Regions from separate parts of the Homo sapiens genome. Here all the other regions are linked to region 1. The links come from fine-mapping of genetic effects on gene expression. A gene starts in region 1. Each other region holds a variant in brackets. All regions are shown on one strand. Distances are between the middles of the regions. Region 1 holds the start of ZYG11B (zyg-11 family member B, cell cycle regulator). Region 2 overlaps PODN (podocan). Region 3 overlaps ZYG11B (zyg-11 family member B, cell cycle regulator).

The links. PIP is the estimated chance that this variant, and not a neighbour inherited with it, causes the effect.
Region 2: its variant is the best candidate, but not a certain one, in a credible set for the expression of ZYG11B in anterior cingulate cortex (GTEx, PIP 0.57).
Region 3: its variant is the best candidate, but not a certain one, in a credible set for the expression of ZYG11B in whole blood (TOPMed, PIP 0.65).

What each region holds. Positions count from the first base shown.
Region 1 is chr1:52,723,227-52,729,398 of GRCh38, reverse strand. ZYG11B (zyg-11 family member B, cell cycle regulator) reads right to left here and starts at 2,946. Exons shown (of 14, transcript NM_024646.3): 1 at 2,716-2,946. The coding sequence starts at 2,745. RefSeq lists a silencer at 2,556-3,135.
Region 2 is chr1:53,075,983-53,082,154 of GRCh38, reverse strand. It overlaps PODN (podocan), which reads right to left. Exons shown (of 11, transcript NM_153703.5): 6 at 4,809-4,965; 7 at 4,355-4,470; 8 at 3,133-3,790; 9 at 1,279-1,427; 10 at 1-174. Among named protein-coding and RNA genes, the nearest start is that of PODN, 17 kb to the right of the region's middle. RefSeq lists enhancers at 1-445, 446-997. The variant G/A (reference allele first, on the strand shown) is at 3,314.
Region 3 is chr1:52,803,652-52,809,823 of GRCh38, reverse strand. The region is part of intron 10 of ZYG11B (zyg-11 family member B, cell cycle regulator); the gene reads right to left. It also overlaps the pseudogene RNU6-969P. Among named protein-coding and RNA genes, the nearest start is that of ZYG11A, 36 kb to the left of the region's middle. The variant A/G (reference allele first, on the strand shown) is at 2,752.

The DNA of each region.
Region 1 (6,172 bases):
CAAGGAAAAATCAAGTTAATTAGATGCAAAGTTTAAAACATAATCATGCCTAATATGTCTGCTGTGGTCTGAATTCTGTCTCCCTAAATTCATATGTTGGAATCCTAACCCCCAAGGTAATGGTATGAGGAGGTGGGGCCTTTGGGAGGTGATTAGATCACCAGTTAGTGCCCACATGAATGGGATTAGTGCCCTTATAAAAGAGACTCCAGAGAGCTGCCTGGCCCCTGCCACCATGTGTGAAAACAGTGAAAAGGTGACTTAGGAAGAGCCCTCACGAGACACTGAATCCACTGGGGAACTGATTTTGGACTTCCCAGCCTTCCAAACTCTGAGAAATAAATTTCTGTTGCTGACAAGCTACCTAGTTTATGGTATTTTGTTACAGTAGATTGAATGGGCTAAGACAGTATCTTGCTAGCCTCATTTCCTACTACACATCTCCATTCTTGCATCCTTCCATGCTATATAAGGGTAATACTACTTCCTACAATGCATCCTAATTCCTTCCTACTTTCTTTCTTAAAAAAAAAAAAATCCCTGTGAGGGGATCCTTTCTACTTGCTACTCACATTCACAATGAGGCATTCTTCCCCTTCCCAAAATGATCTATATAAATCCTATTCAACTTTCAGGCCCAGCTCAAAGGACACTTTTAGATCCTAAATACCTCAAAGGGGAGTTCATAACTCCTCCCTCTCATACATTCATTCTCAATGGAAGGGCCCACACTTTCAAAAATCTAGCAGTGTAATGTCTTAGGTAGGATAGCTCTTTATTCTGAAAAGTATATCATCATACCTCACTCAATATCATTTTTGCATCAAAATTAAGATTCTCTGCCCAGGCGTGATGGCTCATGCCTGTAATTCTAGCACTTTGGGAGGCCAAGGTGGGAGGATGGCTTGAATCCAGGAGGTCAAGACCAGACTGGGCAACACAGCAAGACTCCATTTCTACAAAAAGTTTTACAAATTAGCGGGGCACGGTAGTCCGTGCCTGTGGTACCAGCTACTTGTGAGGCTGAGGTGGGAAGATCACTTGACCTCAGGAGTTCAAGGTTGCAAAGAGCCATGATTGTGCCACTGCATTCCAGCCTGGGCCACAGAGCAAGATCGTCTCCAAACAACAATTCTCAAACTCACTCTTTCTGTGTAGTCCACTAGTTACCTCAAATTTCAGTTTAAGTTTATATTAGTCAGGTGGGAAATGAGACCATAAAGTGAATCATTCAAGCACCTAGCTGGCCTGGGCACTTGGAATAATAAGTAAGGAACGGTTGCTACCTAGAACTTACATTCCACAGGGAGAAACAGGTTAGCATACAACAACAGTGTGTGAAAGTGAAGGAGACAAACACAGGAAAATGACAGACTAAAAATGCAGGAGTGAGTTAGGGAAAATTCATAGATTAAATAATTTTATAGTATATTACTTTTCTAAAAAACTGCTGGAGGGAAAAAAAGAAACTGACTAACCTCCTAGGGGAACATAATTATCAGGACTTAGTTTTGCCTTATTCCTCCCAGAGACCAAAATTTAGCTTGTTGCATATGATGGAGCAATGTTTTCAATAAATGTACAGCAAACCACTTATAACCCAACTCAATGAAAAAACCAACTGAAGCCTCAACCTATTTTCAGACAGAAAGAAAATTTGCAAATATAAGGTTCTCCCAACTAAAGGCAGACAGGGCAAAACAAATGAACTCTTTAGAAGGTTTAAAGAGACTGTCACAACCTGCCAACCTGATTGTCAGTCCTCAAATGCCCTTGGTCTCTGCCTCCAAATGAAAACAAATCATTTGTTTTTAGTAATAATAGCCAAGCTTGTAAATAAGTATTTTTAAACTTCTCCAACTGCACCTCCACATTAAAAGATGCTCAAAATAAAAAAAATTCAAAACATTTTTTAGCTATTTCTGTCAAAAGACTAGATCTCTCCTGAGGTCACAGTATGCATGCTGGCCCTCACTTCACTGCTCTGTAACACACCACCACTTCGATTTTGCAATGACACTAGGTGAATAGGCTTCCAGGATCTCTTCAATGCCTCCAAAAACGAAAAGGAAGAAGCAAACCTATAAATCCCTATCTGCCCGCCCTACAGCTCCCGGGAAGCAACAGTCCTCAAATTGTTCCTGCTTAGACCCCTGAAGCCCGTAGAAGGAAATGGGGACAGCTGCGACGGCGAACCGAGCGAGGACATCCGATAAGGGAAGAGGAAACGTGGATGGAAGAGGACGAAGGGGAGAAGGAACACGGAGAGAAGGGGGCAGTGGAGATAAAATGGTGAAGAGGGGTGAGAAGAGCAAGGAAGAGCAGCGAAAACTAGGGAGGAAAGGGGGGAAAGTAAAAATCACATAAGAGGAAAAAAGGCAAAATGATAGAGGAGAAAGAAAGGAAGGGTTAGGGTTAAAGGACAAGGAGTGGGCGACAAAGGGAATGCGAAAAAGGCTGTCACTGGGGGTGATAAAAAGGATGTCATCGGGGAGAAGGGAGATTCAGGGGGTGTCACCTAAAGGGGTTCACCGAAGCAGGTGAATGGGGAAGGAGGAGCTGAACACCGAGGGGGCGGTAACGAGGGAGAGAGGTAAAGGCAGGGAGCCCGAGGGGACACCAGAGACAGGGAGGGGCAAGACCGCAGGGGCCAGCGCGACGGGCGGGGGCTAGGGTGGCGGGCGGCTGCGGCTAGGGCAGGCCTTGCTCCCTCACCATGGCTGCGCCGGCCTGGTCCTCGGGCATGCAGCCTCCGTCCTGGGTGCGGCGGCGGGCCGGACCGGAGCCCGCCCCCAGGCTGAGCCGGCGCGGAGGCTCCAGGAGGCTCCGGCGAGCGGCGGCTCCGGGCTTGGCCCAGGCCTCGGCCTCTTTCCCTCAAGCTAGGAGCGTAGCAGTAGCAGCCGCAGCCGCAGCCGCAGCCGCAGCCCGAACCAGAGCGCAGACTCCGCCCCCGCGAGGACCCGCCCGGGCGCGCGAGCCCGCGCCTGGACCCGCCTCCGCTCTCAATGCGCAGACTCAGACGAGGGGGTCCCGCCCCCCCCAGCCCGACCTCCAGCTTCTCCCCCTCCCAGGCCCTTAAAGGAGCCACACACCCCCAAATCCTAGCATCCCTTCAAAATATGAAAAGCTTTAAATATTACATCATGACGAGAGATTAGAGCATCGCTCACTTCGGTCACCTATAGACTCCTCTGTCATTCACCATCATTCTCTAAGATTTGGGCTTCTGGTTCACTGTCATTCATTACTACTATTGTCATAACTCTTGGTTATTTCAAAATTCGCTTAATTCTTCCAATCCTCTGGCCTCTCAGATTCTTCTCTAGGGATCATTCTTGGCTCAGCCTCTCACTCTCATGCTCATACGAATAATTGTAACTTCTCTACAATCTCAATTTTAATCCTCTAACTCCCATTGCAACCTTCTTCCTTTCTTTCTTTCTTTCTTTCTTTCTTTTTTTTTTTTTTTTTTGAGATGGAGTTTCGCTCTTGTTGCCCAGGCTGGAGTGCAGTGGTGCGATCTTGGCTCACTGCAACCTCCACCTCCCGGGTTCAAGTGATTCTCCTGCCTTAGCCTCCCGAGTAGCTGGGATTACAAACACCCGGCACCACACCCGGCTAATTTTTGTATTTTTAGTAGAGAAGTGGCTTCACCATGTTGGCCAGGCTGGTCTCGAACTCCTGACCTCAGGTGATCCGCTTGCCTTGGCCTTCCAAAGTGCTGGGATTACAGGCGTGAGCCGCTGCGCCCGGCCACAACCTTCTTCCTTTCTAGCTCACTCTGTCTGATAATACTCCAACTCCAAAAACTTCAACTCCAAGACCCCAAATCCATTGATCCAACTACCTTTTCGCTATTCCTCCCCACGCTGGCCTTATGTACTCACTTTCTTCCTGAAACAGCTTAGATTCTATCGTCCGTCATGAAATGGAATCTAATAGAATCTAAGCTGTTTGGGGAAGAAAGTGAGTACATGAGGTACATGAAGTCGATTTCTTCAGTATTACCTTCATTTCTCTAGTCGTTCTCTGCTTTCTTTGTACTGACAGAACTCCAGCAATGGAGTGGGTGGAGAAAAAGCCAAAAGTGGTTGACTGACTCCCCGTAAATTTGAGATCATTATTCTCAAGAGGCCATAATGAGTGGCTACCCTACCACATTTCTCCAGTTTCACACACTCTCCCACCTTGCTACATAACTATTTCAAGTCTCCTGTCTCTTCAAACCTCCGACACTTCCTCCCTCATCTCATTTAGCTGATGATTTTGCTTCTAATTCACAAGAAAATCAAACAAACCAAAAAGAACATCTACAAGTTCCCAGCACCCACCATGACTTCCAACGAACCTGTAACTCTGCTTTGATGCTCTCTCTGCCTTCCTTTCCTTACTACAAGTTAATTATTTGTCTTTTAGCTAACATCAAATCCTCCTCAGTTCTCAAGCATCTGTGCTAAAAGACCCAGATTTTATCCCCAATCACAAAACTAAATTTCTGTAAAATACAATCAAAATTAATTACTAGAAAAAATTAAAATTTAAAAACAAGCATCCAAAATGCAAGCCCAGATTTTTTAAACCTGCTTAACCATTTTAAAGTGTACAGTTCAATGGTATTAAATACATTCACATTGTTGTGCAACCATCCCCATCAAGAAGCTCCAGAACTTTTTATTTTTTCTTTTATTTATTTATTTATTTATTTATTGAGACAAGTTCTTACCCTGTCACCCATCAGGAGTACAGTGGCACAATCACGGCTCACTCAGCCTCAAACTCCTGGGCTGAAGCGATCCTCCCACCTCAGCCTCCTAAGCAGCTAGAACTACAGGCACATACCACCACGCCTGGCTACCTTTTTTTTTTTTTTTTTTTGTAGAGACAAGGTCTCACTGTGTTGCCCAGGTTTGTCTCAAACTCCTAGGCTCAAGTAATCCTCCTGCCACAGACTTCTAAAGTGCTAGGATTACAGACGTGAGCCAATGTGCCAGGCCTCCAGAACTTTTTTATCTTGCAAAGCTGAAAGCTTGTACTCATTAAACAATAACTCCCCATTCCTAACTTCCCCCAATCCCTCGCCATCACTGTTCTGCTTTCTATCTCTATGAATTTGACTACTCTAGGCAGAATTTTTATTATTAAACCCAACACGCGTAACATTTTTCTGTCAAATTGTTATAAAAGTTTCAAAATATTAATTCTGAATTGCTGTCACAAACTGGTGAAAAACCATTTCTAGATGGTCACTAGTCCATTGATGACACTTTGAGGAGCTCAAGTACTAGGTCTCATACCACGTCACTTTCTCAAAGACACCTATCCAGCAATTCTTCCTCTCACCTACATCGCTATTTTTCTGCTATTACCTCTCATTGCTATAGCAACATGATTTTATTTCTTCCATCTTAAAACAATCAAACAAAAAAACCCTCCTTAGGTTGCAGTGAGCCAAGATCACGCCACTGCACTCTAGCCTGGGCAACAGAGCGAGACTCCACCTCAAAAAAAAAAAAAAAACCCTCTCTTGACTGGACTTGACCCCCCACCTACTGCCCCATTTCTCCATTCTCTTTTCTGCAAAATGTCTCACAAAGGTGGCTTGTACATGGTCTCACTCTGTTGCTTAGGCTGGAGTGCAGTGGTGCGATCTCAGCTCACTGCAACCTTAGCCTCCTGGGTTCAAGCAATCCTCCCACTTCAGCCTCCCAAGTAGCTGGAACTACAGGCATGTGCCACCACGTCCAACTAATTTTTGTATTTTTTGTGGAGATGAGGTTTCATCATGTTGCCTAGGCTGGTCTTGAACTCCTGAGCTCAAGCAATCTGCCTGCCTTGGCCTCCCAAAATGCTGAGATTACAGGCATGAGCCACCTCGCCTGGCCTTGACTTCCTTTTTCTCATTTTCGGTGAGATCCTCTCTGGTTAAGCTTTTACCTCCTCCACTCCACTGAAATGCCCTTGTCAAGGTCACTAGTGGTGTCCATTTGCTGACACCAGTCAATTCTCAGTCCTCGTGTTACTTGACCTACCAACATCACTAGACACAGCTCATTACTTCCCCCTCCTTGGCTACCATGACATTTCACCCCCTCGGGTCTTCTATCTCACTGGCTGCTCCTAGTTTCTCCTCATTTCTCTGACCTCTAAATACTGTAGTACCCCAAGGCTCAAT
Region 2 (6,172 bases), 350 kb before region 1:
GTTTCCTCTTCCTCCTCCTCCTCCTCTTCCTCCTCCTCCTTTTCCTTCCCCAAGCGGCCACGGTCCTTGGAAATGTCACCAAACTCTAAGTTGCCTTCAATGTCCAAGACCTGCAGGTGCTTCAGCCTCCGGAAGGCACTGTCCACCACGGAGCCCACAGCCAGCTTGTTAAACCTGTGTGAGCATCGAGGCAGTCAATGCCAGGAGCCCAACCCCCAAGGAACCCTCCCTTCCCCCGACTGGCCTCTCCAGAAGGTAACAGGGGAGGGAATGGCCCTCCCGGAAAGTGGTGCAGCAGGCGGGAAAGGCCAGGGGCTGAGAGCGCAGTACATGATGGAAGGTACAGGCCGGTCAGGGCAGCTGCAGCTTGTGGTGGGGCTGGCTCTGGGCCAGTCTCTGCAAAGTGAGGGGTCTCTCTCTGCGCACACTCTCACTGCTATTTTGGAAGCCACAACTTTGGGAGCTGTCTCTATGCCATCCCTGGCATTAACCCCAAGGCCTGAGGCTCCTGGGCTGCGGTAGCCAGGGGTCACCGCAGTGCCTGATGTGGAGTGGCACAAAGGCAAGGCCAGCGCTGAGCCAGGCCAGGGCCACACTCAGGGGTGGAAAGGTGGAGGCTGTGGCTCTGATCTCAGGCCCCTCACTCTCTGTGCTTCAGCTACCCTGCAGATGCCTGAGGCACATGTCAAGCCACCCTGATATCATCGAGCCCAGGGCTTTCTGGGCAACCGAGCTCCTGGGAGCACACTCATCTCTGCCTTGTCTCCTTCTCTCTGATTTGGGGGCAGGGATTGTGGGAAGTGCTGGGAAGAACCACCCTGGCTCTGCTGCATGGAAGCCCCTCATATCCTCAGGGAGCTGCATCCCCCGAATCACTCCAAATCCCCATCTCTTAGCCCCAGAAGCCAGGGAGGGCCTGAACATCTATTCCTGAGTGTGAGGCCCGGACCCAGCCTGGATGGCTGCAGACACAGCAGTCACCTGTGCTCTCAGGGCCTCAGCTCTCTCAGCTGCAAACCAGGAAGATGCTGTCCAGCATCCTTTCTGCCACAGTAACATTCACAACGCCCATGCGCACTGGCTTCTAACGTTTCCAAAGCCCTTTTACAAACCTAGGAACCATATCGGGCCTGGCCAGGACTGTCCCCACCCTTGAGATCTGAGCCGTGGTTACACAGGCAGCAGTGGAGCCAAGCTGTTCCCACGTGCATCAACTGTCCCGTTGGAGCCAGGGTGGGCCCCACGGGGGTGTGTACAGGGCCGCGAGTGGGCTCCTACCTGAGAAAGATCCCCTTGAGGTTGGGCGTGGAGTCGAAGGCATTGGCGGGCACCGCACTAATCTTGTTGTTCTGCAGGTACAGGTACTCAAGTGACTCGGGGAGCCCCTCGGGGATCTCTGTGAGCTGATTCCCGGCGATGTCCAGCAGCTGCAGGGGTGACCAAGGGAGTCAGGGACTCCCACCTGTGCAAAGCACTTAACAGCTTACAAAACTCCCACCAAGCCCCCAGCCTATCTAAATCTAACAATAACCCTGTGTGGAGGAGGGGGGGTGTCTATAATTATCCCCACTTCCCAGATTGGGAAATAGAGGCTCAGAGAGGTTAAGTGATCTTTCCAAGGTCACATAACCTATAAAAGGCTGTAGCCGGGTGTGCCTGACTCCAAACCCTTATTCTAATTGATGAACGTCCTACCCAGCTTCTTGTGCCTTCCCACATAAACCCACAGCCAAGATGTTTGGGTGTCACAGTCCTATCTCCTGACACACTTGTCATTCCCATTAGACTTGGTCATTCCCAAAGATCTCAAATGGGCAGAGCCCAGGGATCCCCCAGACTCTGAATCTCACCCCACTGGCCCTGGATGGGTGCAGTGGGAGCTGCTTGAGTGGGACTGCTCACTTATGGACCTCAGGGGCCACACGTGCAGAGGTCAGGAGCAACGGTGTGAGACCCACAGTGACCCCAGCACAACAGCCAGGCCCCAGGCCATTCTGTCTCAGATCATCACATGCCTGGCATCCAGGGGAGGGCAGTCAGGAAAGTGGGTTCCCACAGGGAGCCGCTGAAGCCACTGGGCAGTGCCTAAACTGGCAGCACCCCACCCTCCCTCCCAGGTTCTCTGATGAGTTTCCTTTTTTTTTTTTTTTTTTTTAATTTGAGACAGCGTCTCACTCTGTCGTCCAGGATTGAGTGCTGTAGCGTGATCATAGCTCACTGCCAGCTCTATCTTCCTTAGGCTCAAGTGATCCTCCCACCTCAGCCCCCCAGGGTGAGATGCATGCCACTGCACGGGGCTAAATTTTTTTAAGTTTATTTTTTTGTAGAGATGAGGTCTCATTATGTTGCCCGGGCAAGCCTCAAACTCCTGGGCTCAAGTGATCCTCCTGCCTCAGCCTCTCTAACTGCTGAGATTCAGGCATGAGCCAGCGTATAGAGTGGATTTCTCTTTCACCCACACTGGTTGAGTTGGGGGTTTTGTTACCAAAGTGAACTATGTGCCCAGGCATCCCTGCCTAATTCTGACCATGTGGTCACAGCAGCCACATCGACTGGCCAGCCTCAGAAAGCATGAGTAGATCCCCACCTCCAGCCCTCTGCAGACTGGTGAGGTGGGCCCACAGCTCAGGCTGTCCCCTCTGCCTCCCATCCCAAAGCCCAGCCTTCTCCACATACCTACTCCTGTGCCTGCAAAGGGGTGAGCTTGACTCTCCCATACATACCACCCGAACTGGCCCCCGGTCCTCCTGAGCCTAGGGCCCCTACCTGCAGCCATGACCTTCCTTACCTCCACAGCCCTTCTCAAACCTGTATCTGCAGGTGATGAGCTCAGCTCGGTCATACCACCTGTACTCTGCCCCTCACTCTTGTACCTGCAGGTGGGCTGGGCTCACCCTGGCATGCCAGCCACACCCTCTGCCTGACCCACCTCCTGCCTCCCCTAAGGCCTAGCTTCGCCTTAGCCAGCATCTCCAGCAGATACCTGAAGGTGAATGAGCTCAGCCTGGCCATACCAGAGGAACCTCCCTCACCACCCAGCCCTTCTCCTCACCCTTCAGACAGGTGGGCTCAGGGCAGCCATGCCAGTACCCCCCTCCATGGGCATGGCTCAGCCCCCTCCCTTCCGCTTACCTGCAGATGGGCGAGGTCCACCCAGGCACGGGGGCCCAGGGCTCGGCTGCGCAGTCGGTTGCTGGTGAGGTACAGCTCACGCAGCTGAGCCATGCCCACCAGCGCCCCTCGTGCCAAGGCAGCCAGCTCATTGCGCTTGACCTTCAGCACATGGACATTTCGAGGCAGCCCAGGTGGCAGC[G/A]TGTGCAGCCGGTTGCCCGACAGGTCCAGCGAGCGCAGCAGGCGCAGCTTGCGGAAGGCGTCGCGGTGCACCTGCGGGCTGGTGATGCGGTTGTAGCTGAGGTTGAGCTCCTCCAGGAAGTAGGTGGTGGCAAAGTCTTCGCGGCCAATGCCTGTGATCTGGTTGTGCAGGATCATGAGGGTGCGCACGCGGCGAGGCAGGCCACTGGGCACGCGCTCCAGCGCGTTGTTGTACAGGTGCACCGTGTGCAACCGCTTGAGGCCCTGGAAGGCCAGTGGGTGGATGCCCTGCTCCCGCAGCTGGTTGCTGTGCAGCAGCAGGTACTCCAGGCTGCGGATGGGGGTCAGCACATTCGCGTCCACGCTCCGGATGGCGTTCTTCTCCAAGTGCAGCAGCACCAGGCTGCGCGGCAGCCCAGCTGGGACCCGAGACAGGTTGTTGCTGGACAGATCCAGGTACTCCAGGCTGGAGAGCTTCCTGGGGCAGGGAGGGAATTAGGACGGTTGGCAAGAGCCCACATTGTGCTCGTTTCCACCATGATTCCCAAGAGATGTGGCTGGGGAATTGCCACTAGCTCCTCCCAGCTCTGCTGCTCACTGACTGTGGGCCCTCAGTCCTTGCTCCTTGGGTTGACTCAATGATATTCTGGTGTAGGAAGGATCCGGCATTTTCTGACACACAGGAGTTTACTTGAAGACCACTATTTAACCTTTTGATAGCCTTTTATGGCTACCCTGGTCCCTTAGAAAAATGAAAATGCATTTGCCTTCAGCAAGAATGCCCGAGTCTGTATTTCGCACCAAGAAGCCAGCCTCCACCAACGCTTCTTTGCCTCACTGGAATCTTGGAAGGCCTTACTTCTACATAGTCCTTGTTCCCAGGGACAGAAATGTCAACAGAGGCACAAGGCTTAAAGTTCCTTCTCCAGGGAAGGTGGGCAGGGGACGTGCGTGAGGGGCTGGGCTGGGCTGGATGGTTGGCCCTGAAGGAGCTTCCCGGGCCCCGTGGTCACGCCAAGGACCTGGTGAGACAAGGACTCACCAGAAGGTCTCGTTGTCCAGGCCCTCGTCAGTCAGGTAGTTGTTCTGCAGGTATAGCTCGCGCAGGCTGCTCAGCTCGCTGAAGGCCCCCGGGGGGATCTTCTCCAGCTTGTTGTTCTGGGGGATGGAAGGGAAGGGAGGAGATTGTGAGGGAGGGCCGAGGGCAAGGTCAGGGCCTCGGGATGAGGTGTGGAGAGGAGTCTGGGAAGCCACCAGGAAGGCACCCAGACCTGAAGCAACCCAGGTGTGGGGCCACCAACGCCACACACAACCCACTGGCCAGGTGCCCGGGTTTCTGCCCACTTCTCCACAGTAGACTCCTTGCTGTCAGCCCCGGGGCCCCACTTGGGCAGCACCTGTGGCCATGTGGGCCTGAGCTCTTCCCCTGCAGGCCCCTGCCCCAGTGCCCTGGCTGTGGGGTCTGCTGTGCCCCTCCTTACCCCTCCCCTGCCCACCTTGAGGTGCAGCTTGTACAGGGCAGGCGGCAGGTGCTTGGGCACGTGGCGCAGGAAGTTGCTGGACAGGATGAGGACCTCGACGTTGCTGGAGCCGTTGAACATGTTGTCCGGCAGCCCGGCGTCTGCCAGCTTGTTGTTGTGCAGGTACACAGACCTGGGGGTCAAGGCACAGGTCCTCACCCACCTGGGCTCCCCAGGCCCTGCGCCAGCTCAACTGGTGAGCCTCTAAACCCTTGCCCAGGCTGCTCTCCTTCCATCCAAACTCAAGGGTACAGAGTTAGAAGCACCTCAGATGTTGCCTACACAGCTGACAGAACCAAGGACCAGAAGGGGCCGTGCCCCACCACAGGTGGTCCCATAAGCTAGCGGGAGAAATAGGATTTCCTGACCCCTGGCAGAGGCCCCTCCACGCCTTTCAAGGTCTCAGTTGACCCCTGACCCTTTCAGCCCTGGAGTCCTTGCCTGACTCGCGGCCCCTTCATCCCTGCCTGTCAACCCCACGCAGCCTGGCTCTGAGTTCCTAGGACTTCCTAAACACAGGGCCTATCTCTGCCTGCCTCTTTGGCCCTAGTGCCAGCACAGGGCCTGTCTCAGAGGAGGTGGCCCTCATCCATTCAGCAAATATATAGTTAATATATTATGTAATATAATATATTAAATAGAGATATATGCATATATATATAAAAGGTGTATAAATAAATATATATATGAGATGCCAGAGCTGTTCTAGACTGAGGGCATAACAGTGGACATGACCAATGAGACAGACCCTGCCCTCGTGGACCCAACATACTAGAAGGAGGGAAGACAAGGAACAAGGGTCATCTGTGACAGACACAGCTCAGTTTTGCTGTGTGGCCCGTCTTGAGCCTCTGTCTGTGGGATGGGGCCGTGTACAGTGGTCCTGGGTCCTCAGACAGATGGAGAGAGTCACTGAGATGGCAGACGCAGGGATGGAAGGGCACTGGGGTTGTCCAGCCCCCAAACTGTCCTGGAGGCGGCTCCCCGGCAGCCCCCCACCCCGCCTGCACCACACTGCTCTCTCGCACACCTATGCTGGGGGGCGGTTGCTCCTCCCAATGCAGCTCAGCGAAGGGCAGTTCTGCCTGTTGAAAGATGCTCCCCTTCCCCAGGGGCTGGGAAAGTGGGGACATCCTCACTGGTTCACCACAATTCCTGTAGACAACACTCTCTGTCCTCACCTCCTGGCCCGAGTTGTCCTCCTCTGTTAGGGCCCCTGGGTGTCCCTCCACCACAGCCCTGAGTGCAGGGCCTCCTTCGGGACCTGTCTCTGCCTCACACAGGATGGCAGCCTCCACCTCAGCCCCTCCCCTTGCCCCAGCCCGAGCCCTGACCACCCC
Region 3 (6,172 bases), 80 kb before region 1:
ATTTCTCCGAAGAAGACATACAAATGGCCAATAAACCCATACAAATATACTCAACACCACTTATCATCAGAGAAATGCAAACAAAAACTACAAGATACTGTCTCAGACCCATTAGAATGGCTACTATTAAAAAAAAAGGAAAATAACAAGCGGTGAGAATGTGGAGAAATCGGAACCCTTGGACACTGTTGGTGGGAATGTAAAACAGTAGAGCTGTTGTGGTAAACAGTATGGTAGTTTCTCAAAATTTAAAAATAGAATTATCATGATACAGTAATTCTATTTCTGGAACTATACCCCATAAAATTCAAAGTAGAGTCTTAAAAGAGATATTTGTGGCCGGGCGCGGTGGCTCACACCTGTAATCCAGCACTTTGGGAGGCAGAGGCAAGCGGATCACCTGTATGATTCCACTTACATGAAGTAGTTAAGGAGTTAAAATCATAGAGACAGAAAATAGAATGGTGGTTACCAGGGCCTGCAGAATGGGGGAATGGAATAGTATTGTTTAATGGTTACAGACGTTCAGTTTTACAAGATGAAAACAGTTACAGAGATGAGTGGTAGTGATGGTTCTACAACATTATAAAAGTATTTAATACCACTGAACAATACACTTAAAAATGGTTAAGATGGTAAATTTTACGTTGTTTACCACAATTTAAAACATAATAAATTTTTTAAAAAGTAAATTAAAACCTAAGCATGCCAAGTATCAGGAAAACATAATTCATAATGAGGAGAATAATCACTTGAAATTGACCCTGAACTGACACAGATACTAAATAAAACTAGCCGATTAGGATATTAAAAGAGTTATTAAAATTTTATTTCATATATTCAAAAAGTAGTAACACGGAAGATACAAAAAACACCTAAATTGAACTTGTAGAGATGAAAATGACAATGTCTAAGATGAAAAAATCTACCAGATGGCATTGTAGCAGATTAGATATTGCAGATGAAAAAAAATATTGAACTGAAGGCATAGCAAGGGAAACTATCCAAACTGAAACACACAGAATACAAAAGAACAAAAACATTAAAGAGCATCAGTAACATGTGGGACAATGTCAAGCAGCTTAACATGTGCAAATTAGCGTCTCCAAAGGACTCCAATATGGGGAAAAGGGCTGCAAAATTTATTTTAGGGAAATGGGCAGGTCACAGTGGCTTACTCCTGTAAGCCCAGCACTTTGGGAGGGCAAGGTGAGAGAATCACTTGAGGCCAGGAGTTTGAGACCAGCCTGGACAATACAGCAAAATCCCATCTGTACAAAAATATTTTAAAAAGAAATAATGGCTAAAAACTTTCCAAACTTGATGAAAACTATAGACCTATATATCTGAGAAGCTCAATAAATCCCAAATATAGGAAACATGAAGTTAATTACATCAAGACACATATAATCAAATATTCAAAATTGTTACTAATCTTAAATCTTTTTTTTCTTTTTTTGAGATGGAGTTTCGCTCTTGTTGCCCAGGCTGGAGTGCAATGGCGTGATCTCGGCTCACTGCAACCTCCGTCTCCTGGGTTCAAGCGATTCTCCTGTCTCAGCCTCCCGAGTAGCTGGGGTTACAGGCACCTGCCACCACACCCAGCTAATTTCTGTTATTTTGAGAAGAGATGGAGTTTCGCCATGTTGGCCAGGCTGGTCTCGAACTCCTGACCTTAGGTGATCCACCCGCCTTGGCCTCCCAAAGTGCTGGGATTCCACGCGTGAGCCACCGTGTCCGGCCAACTAATCTTAAATCTTAAAAGTAGCCAGAGGAAAAGAACGTGTACATACATAAGTACAAAGATAATGATGACATCAGATTTTTCATTAGAAAGAAGCAAGTCAGAAAAAAGCTAATCAGTATCTTTAAAGCAATGTCAATTTAGAATTATATACCTGGTAAAAGTATCTTTCAAAAACAAAGGTTAAGTAAAGATGTTTTCAGTCAGACAAAAGCTGAAGAATTCATCATCAGCAGATCCACACTGTAAGAAATGTTAAAGGATGTCTTTTAGGTTGAAGAAAAATGACACCAGGCTATGGTGGTGCACACCTATAATCCCAACACTTTGGGAGGCCAAGGTGGGTGGATCACTTGAGTTCAGGAGTTCAAGACCAGCCTGGGCAACATGGCGAAAACCCATCTCTACAAAAATTTAAAAATTAGTCGGGCATGGTAGTGTGCGCCTATAATTCCAACTACTCAGGAAGTTGAGGTTGGGGAATTGCTTTAGCCCAGGAGGTCGAGGCTGCAGTGAGCTGAGATCATGCCACTGTACTCCAGCCTGGGTGACAGAGTGAGAACCTGTCTCAAAAAAAAAAAAAAAAAAGTACTCTTAGCAATTCTGAACTATACATTATTATTAATTTAGGGATTATAGGTGTGAGCCACTGCACCCAGCCAAGAGTAAATTTTAAATGCTCTCACTACAAAAAACAGTAAGTATGTAAGGTCATGGATATGTTAATTAGCTTGATTTAATCATTCCACAGTGATTAAACACATCACAACATCACATTGGGCTGGGATGGTGCCTCACGCCTGTAATCCCAGCACTTTGGGAGGCCGAGGCTGGTGGATCACTTGAGGTCAGAAGTTCGTGATCAGCCTGGACAACATGGTGAAACCCAGTCTCTACTTAAAAAAAAAAGGCCGGGCGCGGTGGCTCACGTGAGTCTGTAATCCCAGCACTTTGGGAGGCTGAGGCGGGCAGATCATGAGGTCAGGAGTTTGAGACCACCCTGGCCA[A/G]CATGGCAAAACCCCATCTCTACTAAAAATACAAAAATTTGCCGGACACAGAGGCAGGCGCCTGTAATCCCAGCTACTGGGGAGGCTGAGGCAGGAGAATCACTTGAACCCGGGAGGTGGAGGTTGCAGCGAGCTGAGATCACACCACTGCACTCTAGCCTGGGCAACAGAGCAAGACTCCGTCTCAAAAAAAAAAAATTACATTGTACTCCACATACACAATTATTATTTTTATTATTTAAAAAAATTTAAAAATCACAGGAAATGTAAATGATCCAAATACCCCAAATAAAAAACAGATATTTTCAAACTAGATGAAAAAGCAGGATGCAAGGTATATGCTATCTACAAGAAATACATTTTAAATATAAAGACAAATATAGGTTAAAAGTAAAAGGATAAAACAAGAAATGCTATGCTAACACTAGTCAAAAGAAAGTACAAATGGCTATATCAGTATCAAAGCAGACTTCAAAGTAGAGGATATTAGCAGGGGTAAAGAAAGTCATTTGGTAACGGTAAAAGAGTCCATTAAACAGGAGGACATAATTCTAAATGTTTATACATCTAATAATACAGTTTCAAAATACATGAAGAAAAAGCTGATAGAACTGTAAGGAGAAACATACATCTACAATTACAGTCAGAGATTTCAAAACTCCTTTGTCAATAATTGATAGAACAGGTAGGCAGAAAATTAGAAAGGATGTGGTAGAATTGTACAGTATCAACTGTGACACTGTACAATCTAATTATTAATTAGTGTTAATTAATCAAGCTAATTAACAATCAGTGACCTGATTGTCATTTATAGAACACTATACCCAATAATAAGACAATACACATTCCTCTCAAGTGTACATGGAATATTTACCAAAATAGACCATATCCTTGGCCATTCACAAGTCTCAATAAATTCAGAAGGACTCAAACCAAACAAAGCATATTCTCTGACCATAAATAATTAAATTAGAATAAATATCTCAAATTAAATTATTGAAAAAATTTAATCACAAGGTAACAGAGAAAAATATGGAAGGAAACATATAAAGTTATATTAATATTAATAACTTCATGGAGATAAAAATGACGAAAGGTTGGAGACAGAGCCTTAAGGATGTTAAATACAGTTTTGCACTGTTTCACTAGTTATAACAACATGTATTCCTTTGGAAATTTAAAAAAATATATAGGTTTTTTTTTGAGATGAAGTCTTTTTTGTTTTGTTTTGTTTTTGTTTTCTGAGACAGAGTTTTGCTCTGTTGCCCAGGCTTGGAGTACAGTGGCGTGATCTTGGTTCACTGCAGCCTCTGCCTCCCAGGTTCAAGCAATTCTCCTGCCTCAGCTTTCCGAGTAGCTGGGACAGGCATGGGCCACCACGGCTGGCTAATTTTTGTATTTTCAGTGGAAACGGGGTTTCACCATGTTGGCTAGGCTGGTCTTGAACTCCTGACCGCACGTGATCCACCCACCTCAGCCTCCCAAAGTGCTGGGATTACAGGCATGAGCCACTGCACCCAACCCACAAATATTTAAAATAAATTTCACCTTTCCGTTTCAGATGACCTGAGCCAACTTCTGTATCAAATAATCATATTAACCCTGAAAAAACAATCAAATGCTGTAATTTATTTAATAATTCCTCTATTACTGGACATTTAGGTTGTTTTCCATTTTCTACCTTATATAATGAAGGCTACAACAACAGATAGGTCTTCCTTAAATGGCAGTCCTCAGCTTTCCTAAAAATCCATCTCCTCACTGCTTGCATGTGGAAAACAAGCTCCAATTTACATTTTTTAACTCACTAATCTATGCCTCCCATAATCTAATTCCTTGAGAGCAGAGGTCTGCTTTTTTGTGCTCACTTGACAGCATATATACTAAAATTGGAACGGTACAGTGAAGATTAGCATGACCCCTGTGCAGGGATACATGTAAATTTGCAAAGTGTTCCATTTTTTTTTTTTTTTTTTTTTTTGAGACAGAGTTTTGCTCTTGTTGCCCAGGCTGGAGTGCAATGGTGCGATCTCGGCTCACAGCAACCCCCGCCTCCCGGGTTCAAGTGATTCTCCTGCCTCAGCCTCTCGAGTAGCTGGGATTACAGACATGCGCCACCACGCCCGGCTAATTTTGTATTTTTAGTAGAAACGAGACTTCTCCATTTTGGTCAGGCTGGTCTCGAACTCCCGACCTCAGGTGATCTGCCTGTCTCAGCCTCCCAAAGTGCTGGGATTACAGACATGAGCCACTGCACCTGACCAATATTTTTTTCAAAAATAAAAAATAAAATAAAATGGCTTTTGCCACATAGACACTTTGCCTGTTACAGCAATTAAGCTGATAAAACATTTGATCTTTACCTTTGTCTCAAAATCCTAGAGGGCTTACTTTAATCCATATCCAATATGTTAAGAAATATGTGATTTGTAAGCAGGCTTTTGTTTTTTGTTTTTTTTTCTGAGACCGTCTCACCCTGTTGCCCAGGCTAGAGTGCAATGGTGCAATCTCGGCTCACAGCAACCTCCACCTCCCAGGTTCAAGCGATTCTCATGCCTCAGCCTCCTGAGTAGCTAGGATTATAGGCATGTACCAGCACACCTGGCTAACTTTTGTATTTTTAATAGACATGGGGTTTCACTATGTTGGGCAGGCTGGTCTCAAACTCCTGACCTCAGGTGACCCGCCTGCCTCACCCTCCCAAAGTGCTGGGATTACAGGCTTGAGCCACTATACTCGGCCTTCGTAAGCAGTCTTTAAGTAGTAATCATTAACTATCAAACACAGACTCTAAGAACACTTGTAGGTTAATGACTTTTTTTTTTAAGAGACTGGGTCTCACTCTGTCACCCAGGCTGGAGTGCAGTAGGATGAGCACAGCTCACTGCAGCCCTCAAACTCCTAGGGTCAAGTGATCCTCCTGCCTGAGCCTCCCCACTAGCTGGGACTACAGGTACATGTCACCATGTTCAGCTAATTTTCTTATTTCACTTTTTGTAGAGATGGGGTTGTGCTTCGTTGCCCAGGCTGGTCTCAAACTCCTAGGCTCAAGCAATTCTCTCACCTCATCCTTCCAAAGTGTTGGGATTACAGGCATGAGTCACTGTGTCCAGTCTGATAACATTTTTTAATGAGATCTGGTTTACCAATTATAAAAGTGAAACACAAGGCCAAGTGTGGTGGCTCATGCCTGTAATCCCAGCACTTTGGGAGGCCAAGGCAGGAAGACTGCTTGAGCCCAGGAATTTGACACCAGCCTGGGCAACATGGTGAGACTGCAAATCTACAAAAATAAATAAACAAATAAGCTGGGCATGGTGGCACATGCCTATAGTCCTAGCTACTCTGGAGGCTAAGGTGAGAAGATTGCTTGAGTCTGGCAGGTCAAGGCTGCAGTGAGCCGTGATTGTGCCACTGCACT